Homo sapiens: one gene and its partners. The protein of the gene in region 3 interacts with the protein of the main gene of each other region in a pairwise test. Each region holds a gene or a part of one and is shown on either strand. Other genes may lie near its edges.

What was found. Proteins that work in one complex are often made in the same cells at the same time.
Region 1: the proteins of MEOX2 (region 3) and MAPKBP1 interact in binary tests that used the Homo sapiens proteins (3 or more experiments, as listed by UniProt).
Region 2: the proteins of MEOX2 (region 3) and AGPAT1 interact in binary tests that used the Homo sapiens proteins (3 or more experiments, as listed by UniProt).
Region 4: the proteins of MEOX2 (region 3) and NALCN interact in binary tests that used the Homo sapiens proteins (3 or more experiments, as listed by UniProt).

What each region holds. Positions count from the first base shown.
Region 1 is NC_000015.10:41,808,984-41,812,483, reverse strand, and holds part of MAPKBP1 (mitogen-activated protein kinase-binding protein 1), read right to left. Parts: intron 1,602-3,500; coding exon 1,539-1,601; intron 1,307-1,538; coding exon 1,249-1,306; intron 528-1,248; coding exon 357-527; intron 1-356. UniProt on the Homo sapiens protein: Negative regulator of NOD2 function. It down-regulates NOD2-induced processes such as activation of NF-kappa-B signaling, IL8 secretion and antibacterial response. Involved in JNK signaling pathway.
Region 2 is NC_000006.12:32,167,712-32,170,398, forward strand, and holds the end of AGPAT1 (1-acyl-sn-glycerol-3-phosphate acyltransferase alpha isoform 1 precursor), read right to left. Parts: intron 2,550-2,687; coding exon 2,454-2,549; intron 2,406-2,453; exon of another isoform or gene 2,328-2,405; coding exon 2,255-2,327; intron 1,738-2,254; coding exon 1,565-1,737; 3' UTR 501-1,564; downstream 1-500. Other genes in the region: EGFL8 (epidermal growth factor-like protein 8 precursor), read left to right, coding at 199-245. UniProt on the Homo sapiens protein: Converts 1-acyl-sn-glycerol-3-phosphate (lysophosphatidic acid or LPA) into 1,2-diacyl-sn-glycerol-3-phosphate (phosphatidic acid or PA) by incorporating an acyl moiety at the sn-2 position of the glycerol backbone.
Region 3 is NC_000007.14:15,620,684-15,624,183, forward strand, and holds part of MEOX2 (homeobox protein MOX-2), read right to left. Parts: intron 1-3,500. UniProt on the Homo sapiens protein: Mesodermal transcription factor that plays a key role in somitogenesis and somitogenesis and limb muscle differentiation. Required during limb development for normal appendicular muscle formation and for the normal regulation of myogenic genes.
Region 4 is NC_000013.11:101,413,709-101,417,822, forward strand, and holds the start of NALCN (sodium leak channel NALCN), read right to left. Parts: upstream 2,801-4,114; 5' UTR 2,605-2,800; intron 1-2,604. UniProt on the Homo sapiens protein: Voltage-gated ion channel responsible for the resting Na(+) permeability that controls neuronal excitability. NALCN channel functions as a multi-protein complex, which consists at least of NALCN, NALF1, UNC79 and UNC80.

The DNA of each region.
Region 1 (3,500 bases), on a different chromosome or scaffold from region 3:
CTGTCTCTTGGAGCTAAGAAGACAGTGACTCAGAGAATGGAGGAGAATTAGAATTTGTACTTGACAAAGTGTTTCTTTCCAGAATTTACTGGCCAGAAAAAGAGGGGTAGGGAAATAATCCCTTTCTAGAGGAGCTGAAAAGATTCGTTTCCTGCAGAAGTCTTTGAAGGCATAAAGCTAGCCCCTTCAACCAACATGCTTGGCCACACAGTTGCTCTTTTCTGCTTCAAATAACTTTCTAGAATGAGAATGGTTCAGTGGGGTGGAATGGAGCAGTGCAGGTCAGCAGTCTCTTGCCTCCCCAGCTGACACTTGACCCCTGTGAGGCTGCCAGGCCACCCCACCCAGCCACTCACCTTCCAGGCCCACACGTTGACGATCATGTCATGCTGGTAGCCCACAGAGACAATGTACTTGGCGCTAGGAGAGAAGGCCACACAAGCCACACCATACTTGTGCTCCTGCAGCTCGGCCACCTGGCTGTGCTCTGCCACGTCCCAAACCCGCACGGCAGGCATGTGCCCACTCTGCAGGGAGGCAAGAACTGGAAGTGAGTTCTTGACTTCTCCACAGGCATACAGCCCCACTTCGTCTTCCAGAGCGGGGCCCTCGCCTCCTCAGCTACTAGATACCATCACTTCCCCAGCCAAAAGTCAGGGCAGGGTATAGAGGAAATATGATAAAGATCTGAGGGCAACAGTGATTACCAGGAAGAAAGTGGCCCCGGATTTTAGTCAGCATCTCTGGGTGGCCGTCTGTACTTCAGGTTGTTCAAAGCTCCCTGAATGGTTCTGATGGGCAGCCGGCATTGAGAGCCACTACCACTCAGGTCTATTTCTGCCCCTAGTAAGACTACGCCGCCAGGACAGAAGCGTTCCTCCTGAGCCCAGCAGGGGGCCCCCGGGGGTAAGGAATAGTTAAGGCAGTGGTTTCCAAAGCACGCTTCCTTCACCAGCAGGATCAGCACTCTCTGGGAACTTGTTACAAATGCACATTTCAGACTCCCATCCCAGACCTACAGAATCAGAAACTCTGAGGACCAGGCTAGTGATGTGTGCTTTCACAAGCCCTCCAAGTGATTCTGATGTACACTAAAGCTTGAGAACCACTATTTTAAGGTATAGCGAAAACCAGGATTTGGTGTCTGTTTCAGAAGCCAAAGTGACAGCAGGCCTAGGACCGCAGCTCTCTGCGGAGGCCAGGACACCTGCCCTCTTTACAGTACTGCCAGCCCTCTTCCTCACTCACCTCTCCAGTGACCAAGTACTTGCCATCAGGGGAGAAGGCAAGGGCAGTGATGGTTTTCCTGCAAGAGATGGGGCAGGCTCAGAGGGGCACTGGCAGCCTGGCCTAAGCCTAGCCCCCTCCCAGCCTCTCAAAAGGTGAGACCAGCAGACACCAATGGCACATGTGGCACTTCCCCATCTGGCTTTAGGACCCAACCAGGTCCCAGCCCCCAGAGCCATAGAGACTCTAGACAGTGCCCTTCTCATAGCTCCCAGAAGGAAGAGGTATCCTGAGGACCCCAGCCCATTTACCTGGAACTGTTGAGGATGTGGTGCTGTTTGTGTTTCCGGGGATTGAACAACACAACCACACACCTGAGGAGATGAGCAGACAACAGGCTCAGCAGCAAACCACAGCTCCCCCAGGAGCCCTCCAGGCCACCCAGGACTTCCAGTCACCCGGCAGAGGGAGCTGGGTAGAAAGAGCTCAGAAGGGCTCCACTGTTTTTTTCCTTTTCTTTTTTTTTTTTTTTTTTTTTTGAGACAGGATCTTACTCTGTCATCCCAGCCAGAGTGCAGTGGTGCAAACATGGCTCAGTGCAGCCTCAACTTGCAGGTTCAAGCAATCCTCCCACCTTAGCCTCCCTAGTAGCTGGAACCACAGGCATGTGCCACCATGCAAGCTAATCTTTGTATTTTTTTTTTTTTTTTTTTGTAGACACGGGATCTTGCCACGTTGCCCAGGCTGGTCCCAAACTCTTGAACTCAAGTGATCTGCCTCCCAAAGTGCTGGGATTACAGGCATAAGCCACCGTGCCCAGCCTCCACTGCTTTCTCCTGGCAACCTGTTCTTGCTCCTTTTCCCCACCCAAGAGGAACTATCTCTGTAGCCCCATGAGGGTGAAAGGGTTCCCTGGAAGCCTGTCCCCCCAGCCAGGCCCCTAAATACCAGCTCTATCTCTGGCCATACCCACAAAGGGCAGCAGGGACACAGGCCATCCCGCAGCCCTTGTGCATACCCCAGGAAGGGGTGTAGGAGGGAAGAAGAAATGTGATTTGGGCAAAGCAGGCCTCGGGTGCACAGCCCGTTCACAGGCTTGGGGCCACACGTGTATCAAGCATGTGTGCCTTAAGATGTAAGGCCTCTCACGTGTGCACCCACGTGTGTACCTGGCAAGAGCTGGCCCCCCACACCATGTGTTGAATAAGGAAGGAAGTGGGAGGCGAGGCAGGGGCCACACAGCAGAGAGGCTCAGTAAGATGGGGTGGGGGATAGAGATAGCCTGAGAAGGCCTGGGAAAGCCTTACAGTGCCACAGAGGTCCCAAGCCCCACCCTGAGAATCTCTGGCCCCAAGAAACCTGAGAAGAACCCCCCGACTGCCAGAAGCAGAATCAGGGACTCTGCCTGCCTCACAGAGAAGGTGGGGGCAACCTCTCCCGTCAGGCAGCAAGGCTGCTGGATGGAATCAGGTCCTGCCTTTCCAGAGGCAGCTCCGGAGATGGAAGCTGGGTAGTAGGAATCGGGGGCAAGAAGCCAAAGGCCAATAGCCAGGCAGCTTCTCTTTAGGCTTCCTGGCTGTCAGCAGGCCCTGGCCCGTTGCCCCTTCTGCCTCAACTCTTCATTAGCACTGGAAATAGCAGACAAGAGCAAGCCTGGAGACTGCGAATAGGAAAGGCAGGGAGGAGAGAAAGAGGAGACAGCTACTTCCCCCAGACCTAATTTTCCCTAGTGGGACCCCACTGCAGCCCCCATATCTGAACGCCACTACTGGCTGGAAACTTGAAGGGAGGTAGGTGCAAGTTGCTAGTGAGGGCTAAGCATCTTGGGCTCAATAAACCACTTTGATATGCAAATTTGGGGACACTGGGACCTCCGATGTGACTAGATATGCCCAGAACTGCCAGGCTGACCAACAGCTGTGGAATTCCTGAGTCACATCATTTTCTCCTCTAACCCCTCAACTCTTCCTGTTTTTTTTTCCTCCTTCTTTCTCCATTTCCTACTCTTTCCTTGTTCCTGTTTCCTTTCTCTGTTTTTTTGAGACAAGGTCTCACTATGTTGCCCAAGCTGGTCTTGAACTCCTGGGCTCAAGTAATCCTCCTGCCTCATCCTCCCAAGTAGCTGGGATTACAGGCTCATGCCACCCTGGCTCAGCCCTTCCTTCATTTTTTTTTTTTTTTTTGAGGCAGGGTCTCGCTCTGTCACCCAGGCTGGACTGCAGTGGCACCATGGCACCATCACAGCTCCCTGCAGCCTCGACCTCCTGGGCTCA
Region 2 (2,687 bases), on a different chromosome or scaffold from region 3:
CCCTCTCCATTCAGGCATTCCCTCTTTCCTCCAAGCCCCTCTCCAACATTCACTATCCTCATGCCTCTCCACTTTACCATCGTTCTCTTCTGAAATCCTGTCCCCAGCCCAACAGTTTCACTTATTGTTTGGTGAGAGTGGCAGTGTAGTCCACTCCAGGCTGACCACAGCCACTGTGTCTGCCATGTCATTAACCAGGCTCCTGTGAGGACAACAGCCTGGGCCTCGGCGTCAATCATCGATAAGAAGCCTCTACAGCACCCCTGCCCCCTAATTTATACAGAAACCGGACCCACTAATCCTCTGGGATTGGCCGACTGTGAGCTGCAGATAAGGCTATCAGCCACCAAAGAGCAATGAACAATGGAAACTTCAGAGAGCTGAAGAAAGGGGGAGGCCTGTGTTCTTGGCCTGCCCCTGAGTCTTCTGGCTGGGGGCAGGTTGCCTGGGCAAGAACTGCTTCTTCAATTCCTTAACAAATGCAACCACCAACACCCAGATCTCTCTCTCTCTTTATTTTCAGTTTTTTTGCTGTTATCCAGATAATTAATAAAAACCAACCACGCAAAACTGGGTCCCACCCTCTCCTTTTGCTCCCAGCCTACCTCCCCAGTTGTGGGAACAGGTCTGGAGTGAGAGGCAGGGAGTGGCTAATGCCACCAGGAAGAAATGAAAACTGGCTCAGAGAGGGGGAAGCCTCAACAGAAAAAGAAATAAATTAAAAGCCCTCCTATCCCCTCCAGCCAGGGTTCGTTCCTTTCCCCAACTCCCCAGGGGGCAGAAGTGAGTGCAGCACCTGATGTCTGCTTCTTCCCCTTGTGTCTGGTGAGATGGTGCAGCAGGGCTGCAGGGGGCTGGGTGGGGTCATGTCCACTGAAGAACTGTACTATGGGGACAGAAAACCAGAAATGTGGAGACTGAACTGGTATCCCAGAGAGTGCACGACCCTGGGCATCTGGGCAAGGGCAGGCATGAGACCTCTGAATTAGAAGGGTCCAGCCCCCACTGACAGGAGGCTACACTGGGAGGGAAGGTGAAGGTGCTGAGGAAAGCTCCCATGATGAGCCTGGGAGTGCTTCAGGTATCAGCTTCCAGCCAGAGGGCGAGAAGTCCTCCTCACAAATGGATGAGTCCATTGAATCCATGGACTTTGGAGTGGGGGGGATTTGTTCCAAAGAATGGATGAGTCCACTGGCCAATGTGGGGTAGAGGGGTAGAGAAGACCACATAGGAAGAGACTCCACTGGGGATGGAATGTTCCCCTCCCTTGTGTAGGCTGAGTCACTGGAGATGAGGGGGAGGCAACTGTCCCACAGACAAGACAGTAGGAGGTGGGGGTCAAGAGTGGAGACTGCACCGAGGCAAGAGTCCATGGATGGGGCCAAGAGGGGGCAGGAGTGGCGCTGTATCCACATTCACTTCAGAAGTTGAAGATTCCAAAGAGGAGAATAAGTGGGGAGAGGGGAGACAAGGAAGAGGGTTTGGCCCTGCTTCAGGGCCCACTGGGTGGGTAGGTGTGGGGAGGAAGATGGGGACAGATGGGAGGAGAGCTCAGAGCCAGGGTTCACCCACCGCCCCCAGGCTTCTTCAGATAGTCACCACCACCCCGGCCATCAGTGGAGATTTCCCGGAAAACAGTGAGCATGGAGTGCCGGACTCTGTCAGCCAGAGCTGGGACGTCATCTGGTGTCAGCCCTTCCGTGGGCACTGGGGGCAGCACCCGCACCTGACATTGTCCTGGGGCAAGGGGAGCACCATCATGGCCTGTCCACCCAGGTCTTTGCCCACAGGTGGGGCCCAGCTTCCGAGTGATACTCTTCCTCAACCTTTCAGTTCTCTTCCCCCAACCCTGGACAACCATCCCTGGGCTTGCCAGCTGCCACTTCTGAGGCCCTTCTCCTATACAAAGCCTTCTCCAATCCCCAGTTCAGACATCTCCTCAGCACCCCTCCAGCCCCCCTCCTCTGGGTTTGGCATTTACTGCTGAATGAGTGTTATTCATTACAGCTTTGTGCACACAGGCCTTATCTTTCCTGTTAAGATTAGTAACAGCCTCTCTTGGTGGGACCAAGTGCTACCCATCTGGCAGGGTATGGTGGGTGCTTAGTAAAGACTTATTGGCTGATGTGGGGTTAGACTAGATGACTGTGTAGACATCTCATGGCTCTGACACTGAATGATCCCCCTGCCTCACAGGGATGTCCTCCCAGCCTCTCCGGACACACCCTACCCCAGAACTGCTCAAAGCCCTCACCCGAGGTGAAGCGACGCTCCTTCTTGCAGTAGAAGTCTTGGTAGGAGGACATGACTATGGGGACAATGGGAACCTGGGGAAGGGTTAAAGCAGGTCAGTCCACAGCTCTCTTCAGAGACTCCTACAATAAGCCCCTGCCCAGAGATGAGGGAATGGTGGGGGTTGGCAGCTGAGTAGCAGAACGAAGAGCAGTAGTCACCTGGGCCTGCACTGCAAGATGGAAGGCGCCACGTTTGAAGGGCAGCATGGAGCCATTGTGGTTTCTCGTTCCCTCAGGAAACACCCAGACCCTCACCTGGGGGAGAAAGAGGGTCAAAGAAGACAAATACATATGGAGGAGTCAGAATAGGTGTGATGTTATAATGGGACCTTTGAGGCCCACTGGCCCTGCATATCAGTTTATTTACAACTGTTCTACTCTGTATCCCTCCAA
Region 3 (3,500 bases):
ATACTTGGCATTGGGCCATTTGATGATTTATGAGTAAAAAACAAAACATAATCCCTCTCATTTCCACCAATGGAGTATGATCTCGTTAGGTGGGATTTTCCATTTATCTTGGCAGAAGTATCATTAATTTAGTCTGTTTATTCCAGTAATCTTAACTAGTTTACAAGTCTACAACATTACACCTTTGATTAGCTCTGTGAAAAAGATGTTTTGAAGTGAAAGGATCTCCCATTCTGTCTATATTTGGCAGCCTTAACTCTATAAAAATGTCCATTTTACCACTTCTTTTATATGCTCCTGCAGCTGCTTTCTCTCGTCTTCCCACTGTGAGATATTAAAAATCTGGTGGGAGTTTTCTCCAAGTTTATCTGGATGGAGAAAAAAACGCCAGAATAAGCTTGTCCAAATTAAAAATACCTTGAAACTGGAGAGCCTTTAGACTGAGTTCTCTGCAAATCATTCGGGGTGACTCTGACAATTGAAGATTATTATCTGTTGATCTTGAAGGTTATATGAGAATATGTTGTAAACTAGAAGCTGTAAGTTAGAAGCTAGAAGATTTACTGGAGTGATCTGTAACTGTTCAACAAACAACATTATATAATTAAAATATTTGAAGCTCAGCTTCATTCTAGTTTCTGCATTTTTATTTAACATAAAATGATTTTCTTTAACACTTGTGTGCTAACATGGAATTACTTTGCAGAATGAGCCTCTTTTTTTCCTTCTTTGGCCAGATGAAGTTCAAACAGAATTATAGACTACCCTGACATTGCATTATGGAAGATGCAAATGTAAGAGTGTGACATCTTTGTGTGATTCCATGACTATTCTTCAGAATGGAATTTGGAAATTCAAGTCCTGAGTGATATTTAAGGATTTAATATACCTTATGTTTTTCTAAAAGGAAACCTAATTATTATTGCAAATCTTCATGACACATATATGAGTCATCATAAAATTTGTGTTGGATATACTGATCGGTGATATAAGTAAGGTAGGGGTAGCCACAAATAACATCAGTGATAGACATGCACATTTTATTGTCAATCATGTACAATTTCCACATGACAATATGTCTAAAGACTAGTTCTGATTGTAAAGTAAGTTTTCATTTAGGAGAAAATTATTTCTCAAAAACAATTCTGTTACAGGCCAGGTGCCATGGCTCAAGCCCGTAATCTCAGCACTTTGGGAGGCCGAGGCTGGTGGATCACGAGGTCAGGAGTTCAAGACCAGCCTGGCCAAGATGGTGAAACCCCGTCCCTACTAAAAATACAAAAAATTAGCCGGGCATGGTAGCAGGTGCCTGTAATCCCAGCTACCAGAGAGACTGAGGAAGAGAATTGCTTGAACCCAGGAGGCGGAGGTTGCAGTGAGCCGAGACTGCACCACTGCACTCCAGCCTTGGTGACAGAGCGAGACTCTGTCTCAAAAAACAAACACACAAACAAAAGCAATCTTATTATATAATTTAATATTTGTTTTCCCTGTTTGCATGATATCTTTCTTTTGATGTAGATAGATATACATATAGTTAGAAGTATGGAGATGTGTATATATTTATATGCATACACATACATATATATCTGTGTATATGTGTGTGTATGTGTTTGCATATGTGTATATTTACACACACACACATAAAATGAGCCTATGAGTCCTGTCTCTGCTTTTGAATCACACACCCATATAAAATGAGCCTATAAGTCCTGTCTTTGCATTTGAATTTCAAAAGACCTTGACAATGTTAAGGAAACTATTTTATATTCAAATAATTCTATTAAAGCTAAGGAAAATATTGAACAATATGAGGTTAGATGTAATATTCCTTGGTGTATATGTTTATTTTACTGAATCTCAGGTTATTTTAACATATGAAAAAAATAAGTCTTAAAGAATGAATATGAAAAGACAACATATCTATAATTAGATATTTTACATGTGGAAATCCTAGGGAAGGATGTTGTTTAAGATTATATAGGGTCAAGATATAGATTACATGGCTAAACATAGCATTTATGAGATTAATATAAAATCTAAGTAATGGAATAGCCATGCTATGGTCTAAATATTTATGTCTCCTCCAAATTCTTATGTTAAAATCCTAACCCTCAAGGTGACGGCATTAGGAGATGGGGCCCTTGGAATGAGATTAGGTCGTAAGAACAGATCTAGCATTACTCAGATTAGTGCCCTTATTAAAGAGGTCCCAGAGAGCTACCTAGCCTCTTCAGCCATCATATCAAGGTAGAATGGAAAAATGGAAGTCTATGAAGAAGTGTGTGCTCACCAGACACCGAATCTGCTGATGCCTTGATCTTGGACTTCCCATCCTCCAGAACTGTGAGAAATAAATGTGTGTTGTTTATAAGCCACCCAGTCTATGGTATTTCATTATAGCAGCCCCAATAGACTACAAGCTGCATTGCAAATTACAGAAGATGGATTTTAAAGTGTTCTGTTTGTAATTCTGTTAATAACTTTAAAACCCCAACCTCCAGAAAATAAACTGAAAATATTTCACTGGGATGAGAGCCCTGGCATTTTGAAAGAATATGCCATCTGACCTTCAAGAATAGCAAAGTTGACAACTGACATCATAGTATATTTTTTCTGATAAATTCAGCACAGTAAAATTCAGCCCAGAAAATACAATATAACTTAAAATAGACACATAATTTAAGTATGTGATTTTTTTTTATATACAGAGTCTCACTTTGTCACCCAGGCAGGAGTGCAGTGGTGCAAACTCAACTCACTGCAACTTCTGCCTCCCAGGCTTAAATGTTTCTCCTGCCTCAGCCTCCCATGTACCTAGGATTATAGGTGCCTGCCACCACGCCTGGCTCATTTTTGTATTTGTAGTAGAGACGGGGTTTCACCATGTTGGCCAGGCTGGTCTTGAACCCCTGACCTCAAGTGACCTGCCTGCCTTGGCTTCCCAAAGTGCTGGGACAAGTACAGGCTTGAGCTACCACTCCCAGCTTGATTGTTAATTTAAGATATTTTGTGCACAGATTCTTAATTTAAGAAACTTAAGATAATATGTGTGCATAGAAATGTTGGAATGAAATGGTGCAACCAGAAACATTATCCAATACAATTACATCATTCCTCTCCTGTGACATTCTACACTCATAACAATTGTGAATATTTGTTCAATTTTTACCTCTTCTATGAATTCTAACAGGTATTTCTTTAGCTTAAGATTTTACTTCCAGCACTTAGCTCAACAAATATTTGTGTTACAAAATGATTAATTCAACATGCTTTGCATAGCAAAGGTTTTTCCCACCTGGGTGATAATTCTGTTTTATAGTTTACACTAAAAATTATTTCATACCCATTATGATATACAAATCTACATAGAAGAAAGAGCAGGTTTTAATTTCCATTTTATGCCTTGGGGAGATTGTTACTTACTTAAGAACACACAATTCTAATCAGCAAACCTTGGATTTTTATTCAGATTTTTTTCATAACAATTAAATTCTTTT
Region 4 (4,114 bases), on a different chromosome or scaffold from region 3:
TATCATCTCTATCAACTTTGGTTACTTTAAAATTCAAAAAATCAATTAAAAAAATTTAAGCATTTGCATAGAGTTTGAAGGTATGAAAATCTGTGCTGGTCCTTGAGACAGGCGAGAATTGTATAACATGAGTGAAGCTCTAAAATGTTGATAACATTTTGGGACAGGGGCATTCTTTTTTTATTTTTAAACAGAGTCTCACTCTGTGCCCAGTCGCCCATTCTAGAGTACAGTGGTGCCATCATAGCCTGCTGCAGCCTTGACATCTCTGGGCTCACGCGATCCTTCCACCTCAGCCTCCCAAGTAACTGGGGCTACAGGTGTACACCACTACACTTGGTGAATTTTTTTTTTTTTTGTAGAGACGGGGTTTCACCATGTTGCCCAGGCTGGTCTGGACTCTTGGGTTCAAGCAATAGGCCTGCCTTGGCCTCCCAAAGTGCTGGGATTATAGGCATGAGCCACCGTGTGTGGCCTTGGGGACCATTCTTAATATGTTTAAGCTCACTATCATAGTTTCCACAGCAAAACTAGAAAATAAGACATCTCACTGTATATCCACCTGCTTACATATTTGTCTTTCCTGAAGGATTCTTAGGCTCTCAGTTTATCTCTTTTTCTCACTCACCACCCAGCTTCTGGCCCAGTGCTTAGCTTATCTTAGGATATAGAGGTGTAGATGTGAATTTTCATTCACAAACTTGAAATCCACATGTGACTCTGACCTGGGATAAATTTATACAGCTATGGAAATTCTGAAATTATCTGAACATCATCGATAAATGATAAAACAAATGTGTACATTTGTGTATACACATACATGCACACACAAAGCATGCCGGAATGATAAAATCACCTGGAAACCATTTCAAAGAAATGCCATACCCAAGAAGAAGAAAATGCTACTCAAATCTTCAGTTCACTAAATTGCAACTAAATGACACTATTTTGAGTAGACTTTTTTTAAGTACATTTTTTAAGTACATTTCTCCTTTGAATATCTTGCAAGTCCTATCCAAAGTTATAAGTGTACAACCACTATTTTATAAGACATGCTTTCTCCTAGAGTTCTGTAGAGATTTTAGCATAGTCCTTATCAGTGACGGCACATTTATTCTGCAAACAGATTATGTCTTCTATGAACACAGAAGAGGATCCAACTGAACCTTTTCACTTTTTAAGTTTTTCTCCAAAGCTGGATTTTGTCTTCACACTGTCTGGTTTTAGCAGTGGCTAGGTCAAAGTATACTACAGAAGAACGAAAAATCGACTCTAGAAAAGCACGCAGAATGACAGCCAACCAGTTAGGGAGTAAATGTTTCTCGTTGCAGATGTTTGGGAAGCCATGATTTTTATTTAGAACTGTGGAAACCTTATCTTTGAATTTAAAAAGCCAGTCCTGAGATGCATCTGCCTCAGGGGTAACTACCATAGTGAAACCGCTCCTCTCCCAGGCCATATCAAATCACAGTTGTAGTTATGAACATACAAATCACACACATATATATATATATATACATACATATATATTTCAAAATCGCCACCTGTTAATTTTTGATCCCCTATTAGAGGTGTTATCCACCAACTACTAACACGAAGGTCACTGGTCCTCAACCCACATTTCACCACCAGGGCAGTCGGGCCTAGCTGATGACCACACGAACACCAGATTAAGAGTAAAACCTTCTGAGGCCTGAAAGTGAGCGTGTATTCACACATCCTTAATAATACAGTGTCTGAAAAATTGTACCTGAAACTGAAAGATTTATTCTAAGGTATTTCAAGCACTAAGGGTCTGAGTTCAGCATTCTCACACCATCCTGAAAGAGGAACATTAAGTCAGCAAAATGACTGCGATCTGGGCCCCCAGAGGGATCCCAGCCAGGCCATCCTTGCTGGTGTCTTAAAGATTCAGTGACAAAATGGTGTTGCTTGGCAGGACACTGTTTTGCGTTCGGTGTAGCCACCCTAATGACGGCTGCTTAACAAGGCCAATGAATATCATAAGGGACATTTAGCAAGGAGCAATCCACAGGAGCATGGGGGTGGGGCAAGGCCGCGGAGCCCCCGCGGAGACCTGCTGGAGCCAGGCTGCCCACCCCCACCTCCCCACCCGCGCGTTGGCCCAGAGGTTTACCCAGGCAGCGGCCCTGGTGCCGAGGGGGCAGGTGCAGCGCTGTAGTGATGCCCAGTGGCCTCGTCCTCAGCCACCTGCCCCCCAACACCTGCTAGATGCCCAGGCGGGGCAGGCCCGAGGTGTCGCCGGCCCTGGGCTTCCCAAGCCAGCCCAGGGGCATCCCGCGGCAGGCGCCCCCGACACCCACGCGCAGGAATAGGGAGGGCGCATCGCGGCTCCCGCGCCCCGGCCAGGCCGGCAAGGACCCCACCGCCCCGCTCTCGGGTGGAGGCGCCCCTCCCCACCCCTCCCCCGCGCGGGGCCCCCGCCCGCAGCCCCTCTAGCAGCCCCTCTCGCAGCCCCAGCGCCCCTGAGCCGTCCTGGCCCGGACCGGCCAAGGAACTAACGAGCGCGCATCGCGGGCCTCGGGCGCAGGGCACGGAGCCGGCCGCGCCGCAGCCTCCCGGGCACCGGCGGCGGTGACCAACCTGTAACCCCAGCGCTCAGAGCTGTCATGGTGCCCGCGGGCGGCGGCGGCGGCGACAGTGGGCGACCGGCAGGATCAGTGCCAGGCGCGGCGCCCAGGGCGGGCGGGGACGCGGGCCCCTCACCTACGGCGGCTCAGCTCAGGCAGCGCGCTCGGCCCGGCTGGGGCCGCGGCTCACGCTCGCCGTGTCACTCACTGAGCGCCGCCGCCGCCGGGCAGGCTGGGGGAGGGGTGGGAGCCGGAGTTTTCGGGCCTTTAAAAAATTATTATTTTATTTAAATTTTTAAAGTTAGCTTTGCTACAGGGACTGCAGTGATGCCGAAGGGCGGGCACCGCAGAGGAGGCTGCGCCGCAGTTGGTGGGGAGCGCCAGGGTCGGTACTGGCAGTTCCTTCTTGCCGGCTGCCACCCGCAGTCAGTCTCACAGCAACAGCTAGGCTCTCATCTGCGAGCTCCTCTCGGGGGTCTTTCGTACTCAACAGCACGGCGGCGGTGTGCACGGGAGTCCGCCGGGCACACGCGGGGTACACTTAAGTGCACTGCCAGGAGGCCGGGAGCCCAGCGTGCGAGCGTGAGGTCAGACTGTGCACGGTACCGAGGACTAGTTCCATTCCTGAGTATGAAAGGGTGAAACCGTTCACCTCAAGTTTCACCCCGGAGTTATTAAATAATGAATGCATCAGTCACACTTATAGTTTTCTAAATAGGTTGACGTTCGCCTTTAAAATTAAAATATGTTGTCGTGTGGATGAGACAAAGTCTATTCAGAAATTGACAGTCCCCCACCCCATACCCTGTGAGTATACCTGGACAGCAGACTGCATCTGAGGCTTCCTAGGGCTCCCAGCAGAGCAGGTTTAGGGAAATCTGGCCTCCTAAGCACCATGCCCAGGGCGACATCCTCCCACTCATTCCCACTCTCTGAAAGGTTTACTTTGGGTCTGGAATCTTGCCATGTAGTCAGATACGAAAATCCCCAGGGAACTCCTGACCAGTGATTTAGACATCATGCACACAGGCATATAAATAAAGGGAAAGAAACAACTGAATGAAGCTTTCTCTACAAGAGAAATTCTAAACAAAGAGCATTTGTCTATCACAAAATGTTATGTGGCAAGGTATAGAAGTAAAACTACACAAACCTACATTTTAAAAATGTATTTTCTGGTTACAGATATTTAATTAATCTACTTTCTTAAAAAGTCCATTCACAATTTGTTCACATTCATAATCCATATTAGTACGTTTTATTGTTTACAGGGAAATGTTAAAATATTGGTATTTCATGAAATACAGAGTCATGCGAGATAATTTTTCAAATTTCTAAAGACTTCAGAAAAACTGTGTCAAAAGCCAGGTTTTAAACAAATGATGAAATCACTCCTCATAAGAAAAAATTGACAGTAATTTAAACAATGCTAAATCTACAACCAGTTTGCTTAGAAAAAGTATTTACCAACTTGTTTCATCATCTTTATTTGCGGCTTTCAATTGCTTGTTCTAAATACTAGT